Linked DNA regions of Homo sapiens. The protein of the gene in region 2 interacts with the protein of the main gene of each other region in a biochemical or structural test. Each region holds a gene or a part of one and is shown on either strand. Other genes may lie near its edges.

Region 1 (3,750 bases), on a different chromosome or scaffold from region 2:
ATGGCTAGAATGTCAGCTCCACCAGAGCGCAGGAATCTTTTGTCTACTTTGTTCACCGTTGTATCTTCTATGCCTTGAAGAGTGCTGCACAGAGTGGCCTCTTATTAAATATTTCACGAAATAATACATATTCACCTTCATTGAAGATGGGACTGATGAAAAAATGATGACAGCCGTGCACGGTGGCTCACACCTATAATCCCAACACTTTGGGAGGCTGAGGCAGACGGATCACTTGAGGTCAGGAGTTCAAGACCAGCCTGGCCAACATGGTGAAACCCCGTCTCTACCAAAAATACAAAAATTAGCCGGGCGTGGTGGCACATGCCTGTAATCCCAGCTACTTGGGAGGCTGAGGCAGGAGAATCACTTGAAACCGGGAGTTGGAGGTTACAGTGAGCCCAGATTGCACCATTGCACTCCAGCCTGGGTGAAGAAGCAAGACTCCGTCTCAAAAAAAAAAAAAAGACAAAATTTTGAGGGATGTAGATTTTGAATGTAGACTTCTATGTTAGCCAGATTGATATTCAGCTGTGATGACTGTCGAATGTATCTGCAGACATAAGGATTCAATCATCCATCTTTGTTTTCTGGAAGAGAAATAATTTACCTTATTGTGTTAATATATTTATATACTAAGTAAAATGCTGTTGTATATATTCGAATGTGTCTGCAGACATAAGGATTCAATCATCTATCTTTGTTTTCTGGAAGAGAAATAATTTACCTTATTGTGTTAATATATTTATATAGTAAGTAAAATGCTGTTGTATAGATACCAGTGTTCTTTTTCTACTTTTTTTTTTTTTTTTTTTTTTTTGAGACGGAGTTGCACTTTTGTTGCCCAGGCTGGAGTGCAATGGCGCGATCTTGGCTCACCGCAACCTCCACCTCCCAGGTTCAAGCAATTCTCCTGCCTCAGCTTCCCTGGTAGCTGGGATTATAGGCATGTGCCACCACGCCCGGCTAATTTCGTATTTTTAGTAGAGACGGGGTTTCTCCATGTTGGTCAGGCTGGTCTCAAACTCCCGACCTCAGGTGATCCGCCTGCCTCGGCCTCCCAAAGTGCTGGAATTACAGGCATGAGCCACTGCGCCCGGCCTATTTTTCTACTTTCTACAATTAGGGAAATACAAGTTAGTATAAGTGACTCAAGAATAAACATTTTGAATAGATTAGCAATCTGCAAAAGATCTTGGAGAGATACTCAAAAATCCATCCTTCAAAAGCATACAGTGGAAAACATTTACAAAGTCTGTTGAAACTTCAAAATAGTTAATTCCTTTATTTACAGTATTCTCTAGAAATACATTAAGACCTTCCCAGTTCATTCTACAGGGCTAGCAAAACCTGCTTTTAAAACTGGAAAATAAGGGCCGGGCCTGGTGGCTCATGCCTGTAATCCCAGCACTTTGGGAGGCCGAGGCAGGCAAAGCACGAGGTCAGGAGTTCGAGACCAGCCTGGCCAACGTGGTGAAACCCTGTCTCTACTAAAAATACAAAAAATTACCCCTGGTGTGGTGGTGGGCGCCTGTAATCCCAGCTACTCAGGAGGCTAAGGCAGGAAGATCATTTGAACTCAGGAGACGGAGGTTGCAGTGAGCCAAGATCGCACCACTGCACTCCAGCCTGGGCGACAGTGTGAGACTCCGTCTCAAAAAAGCAAACAGGCCGGGTGCGGTGGCTCACGCCTGTAATCCCAGCACGTTGGGAGGCCGAGGCGGGTGGATCACGAGGTCAGGAGATCAAGACCATCCTGGCTAACACAGTGAAACCCCGTCTCTACTAAAAGATACAAAAAAATTAGCCGGGCGCAGTGGCGGGCGCCTGTAGTCCCAGCTACTGGGGAGGCTGAGGCAGGAGAATGGCGTGAACCCGGGAGGCGGAGTTTGCAGTGAGCCGAGATCGCGCCACTGCACTCCAGCCTGGGGGACAGAGTGAGACTCCGTCTCAAAAACAAACAAACAAACAAACTGGAGAGTAAGGCCAGGTGCGGTGGCCCATGCCTGTAATCCCAGCACTTTGGGATGCCAAGGCAGTCGGATCACTTGAGGTCAGAAGTTCGAGACCAGTCTGACCAACATGGTGAAACCCTGTCTCTACTAAAAATACAAAAGATAGCTGGGTGTGGTGGCACGTGCCTGTAATCCTAGCTACTCGGGAGCCTGTAATTCCAGCTACTCAGGAGGCTGAGGCAGGAGAATCACTTGAACCCAGGAGGTGGAGTTTGCAGTGAGCCGAGATTGCGCCGCCACTGCACTCCAGCCTGGGCGACAGAGCGAGACTCTGTCTTAAAAAACAAACAAACAAACAAAAAACCAGCAACACCTTTTCTAGGAATATGCTCAAAGAAACTTATACATGAGCACTTGATTCATGAAATGGTGTACCTTGTTCACAAAACATTGCAACTTGTTTCACCATTCATTGGATAATGTGATAGATTTACAACAGAAAATATTTGGCTGGGCACAGTTTCTCACGCCTGTAATCCCAGCATTTTGGGAGGCAGAGGCGGGTGGATTAACTGAGGTCAGGAGTTTAAGACCAGCCTGACCAACATGGTGAAACCCTGTCTTTACTAAAAATACAAAAATTAGTTGGGCGTGGTGGCAGGTGCCTGTAATGCCGGCTACTTGGAAGGCTGAGGCAGGAGAATTGCTGAAACCCGGGAGACAGAGGTTGCAGTGAGCTGAGATCTAGCCAACAAGTGAAACTCAATCTCAAAAAAAAACAAAAAGAAAGAAAGAAAGAAAAAGAAAATATTTGTACAGCAGTGAAAATGGATGAACTATAGCTGCAGGCAACAACATGGAGAAATCTCCAAAATCTAATGTTATATGAAGAAAGTACATCCCATAAGACTACATACAGTATAATACTATTTCTATAAAACAAAGCCTAGTAAGATAAAGCAGAATATCATTAAGTATACATTTATCTGTGATATTGCAGGTTTTGTTTTTTTGTTTGTTTGTTTGTTTTGAGATTGAGTCTCGCTCTGTCGCTCACGCTGGAGTGCAGTGGCGCGATCTTGGCTGACTGCTACCTCTACCTTTCGGTTTCAAGCAGTTCTCCTGCCTCAGCCTCCCGAGTAGGTGGGATTACAGGCGCCCACCACCATGCCCGGCTGATTTTTGTATTTTTAGTAGAGATGGGGTTTCACCGTGTTGGCCAGGCTGGTCTCAAATTCCTGACCATGATCCTCCCTCTTCAGCCTCCCAAAGTGCCTGTGTTACAGGTGTGAGCCACCATGCCCAGCCCAATGCAGGTTTTGTTTGTTTGTTTGTTTTTTGTTTTTTACAAAACTAAATGTGCTTATTGGCTGGGCATGGTGGCTCATGCCTGTAATCCCAGGACTTTGGGAGGCCAAGGTGAGAGGATTGCTTGAGCCCTAGTGAGAGCTTGTCTCTACAGAAAATTTAAAAATTAGCTGAGAATGGCGGCACACACCCATAGTCCCAACTACCCGGGAGCCTGAAGCAGAAGGATCACTTGAACCCAGGAGATTGGTCTTAGGCTGAGGTGGAAGAATCGCTTGAACCCAGGAGGTCGAGGCTGCCTTGAGCTGAGATCGTGCCACTGCACTCCAGCTTGGGCAACAGTGAGATCCTGTCTCAAAAAAAAAACGTGCTTACCGTATCGTTCAACAGTTGCATTCTTGGGTATTTATTTCAGGGAAATTAAAACTCAACACAAAACCTGTACATGAATGTTCACAGCAGCTTTATTCATAGTAGCCAAAAACTG
Region 2 (3,750 bases):
AGGTGGATCAACTGAGGTCAGAAGTTCAAGACCAGCCTGACCAACATGGTGAAACCCCGTCTCTACTAAATACAAAAACTTAGCCAGGCGTGGTGGCATACACCTGTCATCCCAGCTACTTGGGAGGCTGAGGCAGGAGAATTGCTTGAACCCGGGAGGTAGAAGTCTCAGTGAGCTGAGATTGTGCCACTGCACTCCAGCCTATGCAACAAGAGCAAAACTCCGTCTCAAAAATAATTTTTAAAAATAAAAATTTATTGTTTATTTATTTTTTGAGACAAGGTCTTGCTCTGGTGCTCAGGCTGGAGTGCAGTGGCACAATCACGGCTCACTGAAACCTCCACCTCCAGGAGTTCAAGACCAGCCTGGGCAACATGGTGAAACCCATCTCTACAAAAACTAGACAGCTGTGGTCTCAGCTACCCAGGAGACTGAGGTGGGAGGGTCACTTGAGCCTAGGAGGTAGAGGTTGCAGTGAGCTGTGACTGCACCACTGCACTCCAGCCTAGGTGACAGAGTGAGACCCTGTCTCAAAAAAAAGGGGGGGGGGATACCAGTCTTAACTGGATGAGGTACAATGTGACTTCATTTTACCTTAATCACCCTTTAAAGACCCTGTCTCCAAAGACAGTCACCTTATGAGATACTGAGTGTTAGGACTTAAACATATGCGTTTGGTTGCGGGGGGACATGATTCAGTCATATCAAGGTGGGGAATGGAGTGGTGTAACTGCTGATGGGTGTGCGTCTCCTTTTTGGGGTGGTTAAAATGTTCTGGAATTAGTGGCAATTAATGTGCATCTCTGTGAATATACTAAAAACCACTGAATTGCCCAGCCAGAAAGGATAAACTTTTGCCCTGGGGCAGGAAGAAGGCTGGCATGCAGAGAGAGGAGAAAGGGGGGCTGGATGAGCTGGCCTGCTAGCGGGGGCCCCAATACTACATAAGACCTTGCCCTTCTCCACAGTATCTGGTGTTAAATCTCATTATGAGGACCCTTTCAGCCCGGGGTTGGGATTGGAAGTGAGACATTGAAACTTCAAGGGCTGGGTTCTGGCCCGGGTGGGGATTTGCCATGGAGCAAAATAGCCTCTTGCAGCACATGCGGGGTTTCCTGTGCCGGGCACTGTCCTAAGTCCTTCTCAACTCTTTCGTCATTGAGTTCTCATAGCAGTCCAGTGAGCCAGGTACCATTCCTCTCTTCAGTCCACGGTGCCAGGTCACTTGGCTAGGGTCCCACTGAGAGTTCGAAGGAAGCCAGGCTAGAGCTCAGGCCTCTCACCAGCTGGAGGTCTTTCCCAGACTCTCTAAGGTGAGAGTTGGTGAATGGTGTCAGCCTGGGCCTGGATGAGTGACCCACGGTGCTCAGTGAATTTCAGGAACAGAGCCAGGGGATGCTGCGGTCAGGGGTGTCTTGATGGGGAAGAAGCAGGGCTGGGCGCTCACCTGGCTTCCCCGGACCTGCAGGTCCAGCCTCGCTCTCCTTCCCCCGAGCACCTCTAGCCCAAGGCCTGCCCACTTGCTGGAGCTGGCCCCTTGGCAAGGCTGCTGGGAGGGCCCGTGCTGCCAGGGCGGTCAGGGTCAGTGTCAGAGGTGCCTAAGGGACGCCCAAGGGGGTGCCCAGGTGGCAAGGTGCCTGTATGCTCAGGGAAGCCACGTCCCAGCTCGCGGGTGGGTGCAGCAGAGGCCCACGTGACCTTGCTGCTGACATTCCTCAGAGGCCATGTGGCCCCAACTGGCAGCGACAGCTGCAGACGGGCTGAACCAGCTTTGTTCCCAGGGTGGCGCCTGCTCTCCATCCAGGCCCCATTCCGGCTCCCACCCGACGCTGCTTTTGTTCCCACGTTTCGGGGGGCAGCTGGCACTGTGATTCCTGCCCCATGAGTGCCTAGAGGCACGGAGCCACCAGGGATCACCCCACGTGGGACACAGGGCTTGGGGAGGATGGGGCAGGACCAGACCAAGCAGCAGATCGAGAAGGGGCTCCAGCTGTACCAGTCCAACCAGACAGAGAAGGCATTGCAGGTGTGGACAAAGGTGCTGGAGAAGAGCTCGGACCTCATGGGGCGCTTCCGCGTGCTGGGCTGCCTGGTCACAGCCCACTCGGAGATGGGCCGCTACAAGGAGATGCTGAAGGTGGGTGTACCCGGCCTGGGGGCGTTCGAGGGTCAGGCTGGGGCCGGATGTCTCCCAGGCTCCCCAGTCCCCTCTCGGCCTCCTCGGGCTCCCCTGTGTCCCACAGGCTGGCAGCCAGGGCCCGAGGCTCTGAATTTATATCTAAGGCCCTGGGTCTTAGATACTGAGTCTTGGCATCAGATTCAGGCCTGTGGCCTTGAACTGTGGTGCCCGAGTCTCTGAGACTGAGGTTCTCCAGCCTCAGGGTCGAGGGTTTGTGGGTCTCAAGCCCATTGTAGGTTTCAGCCTTCCTGTCTGGTGTTCTGTGTCTGAGCCTGGCGGGGTGTGGGCTCCAGGGTTGCGGCTGGGGGTGGGTGGGTGGTGGAGACTCCAGATCTGAGGCTTGGGATAGAAGGTGAAGGCTGCAAGCCTGAGCTTGGGAGGTGAGGCTGGGGTGTAGGGAAGGTAGCTGAGGCTGGCGGGTAGAAGCTCTGGGTCTGAAAAGAAGCTTTGGGATCTGCTGCTTTGGGTGTGAGGCTGGGGGGTGGGTGTGGGGCCTCCAGGTCTGAGCCTGCAGTGCAGGCTGGGGTCCAAGGCTCAGAGTCCAGGCTGAGCACCACCTGCCCACCGTCGCTGTGTGCAGTTCGCTGTGGTCCAGATCGACACGGCCCGGGAGCTGGAGGATGCCGACTTCCTCCTGGAGAGCTACCTGAACCTGGCACGCAGCAACGAGAAGCTGTGCGAGTTTCACAAGACCATCTCCTACTGCAAGACCTGCCTTGGGCTGCCTGGTACCAGGGCAGGTGCCCAGCTCGGAGGCCAGGTCAGCCTGAGCATGGGCAATGCCTTCCTGGGCCTCAGCGTCTTCCAGAAGGCCCTGGAGAGCTTCGAGAAGGCCCTGCGCTATGCCCACAACAATGATGACGCCATGCTCGAGTGCCGCGTGTGCTGCAGCCTGGGCAGCTTCTATGCCCAGGTCAAGGTGGGCCTGCACCCCAGGGGGACAGCAGTGGAGGGTTTTGGGGCTCCCCTCTCATGAGGCACACACCCTGTGGCACTACCTCATTCAGCCCTCCTTTTAGGGAGGGCTGAGGAGAGTGAGAATCAGAGAGCAAAAAGGCTTATCCAGGAAGGTAACAACTTGGCCAGGAAGCCAGCAAGGGCAGAGCCAGGATTCAAACCTTGATCTGTGTGACTTCCTGGAGGAATAATGGGAGGCTCCTCTGTGAGGACAGGCCAGCGGCCTGCACTGCCATGTTTGCTGTGTGGTCTTGGGCAAGTCACCTATCCTCTCTGAACCTTGGGAGAGATCTGTAAAATGAAGGAGAATAGGACTCACCTTACAGTGGGGTTGTATGGAGTCAGTCATCAAATATTTATTGACCAGCTACTGTATCCCAAGACTGTTGACCCAGGGTGTAGCAGTGAGAAAAACAGCCAAGTCCCCGTCCTCACGAGGGTTGCATTCTAGTTGGAGAAGAAAGACGATCAACACAGTCAGGAAGTCAAGTGGTTAGGAGAAAGCGAAGCGGGGCAAAGGGCTGGCAGCACTGGGCGTGGGGGTGTCATAATTTCAAATATAGTGGTCGGAGGGCCTCGCAGAGGTGATGTTTGATGGCTTGAAGAAGAGAGGG

Evidence for each region.
Region 1: the proteins of RAPSN (region 2) and KHDRBS1 form a complex in vitro, tested with the Homo sapiens proteins (one study listed by BioGRID).

What each region holds. Positions count from the first base shown.
Region 1 is NC_000001.11:32,016,805-32,020,554, forward strand, and holds part of KHDRBS1 (KH domain-containing, RNA-binding, signal transduction-associated protein 1), read left to right. Parts: intron 1-3,750. UniProt on the Homo sapiens protein: Recruited and tyrosine phosphorylated by several receptor systems, for example the T-cell, leptin and insulin receptors. Once phosphorylated, functions as an adapter protein in signal transduction cascades by binding to SH2 and SH3 domain-containing proteins.
Region 2 is NC_000011.10:47,447,160-47,450,909, reverse strand, and holds the start of RAPSN (43 kDa receptor-associated protein of the synapse), read left to right. Parts: upstream 1-1,773; 5' UTR 1,774-1,945; coding exon 1,946-2,137; intron 2,138-2,759; coding exon 2,760-3,098; intron 3,099-3,472; exon of another isoform or gene 3,473-3,583; intron 3,584-3,750. UniProt on the Homo sapiens protein: Postsynaptic protein required for clustering of nicotinic acetylcholine receptors (nAChRs) at the neuromuscular junction. It may link the receptor to the underlying postsynaptic cytoskeleton, possibly by direct association with actin or spectrin.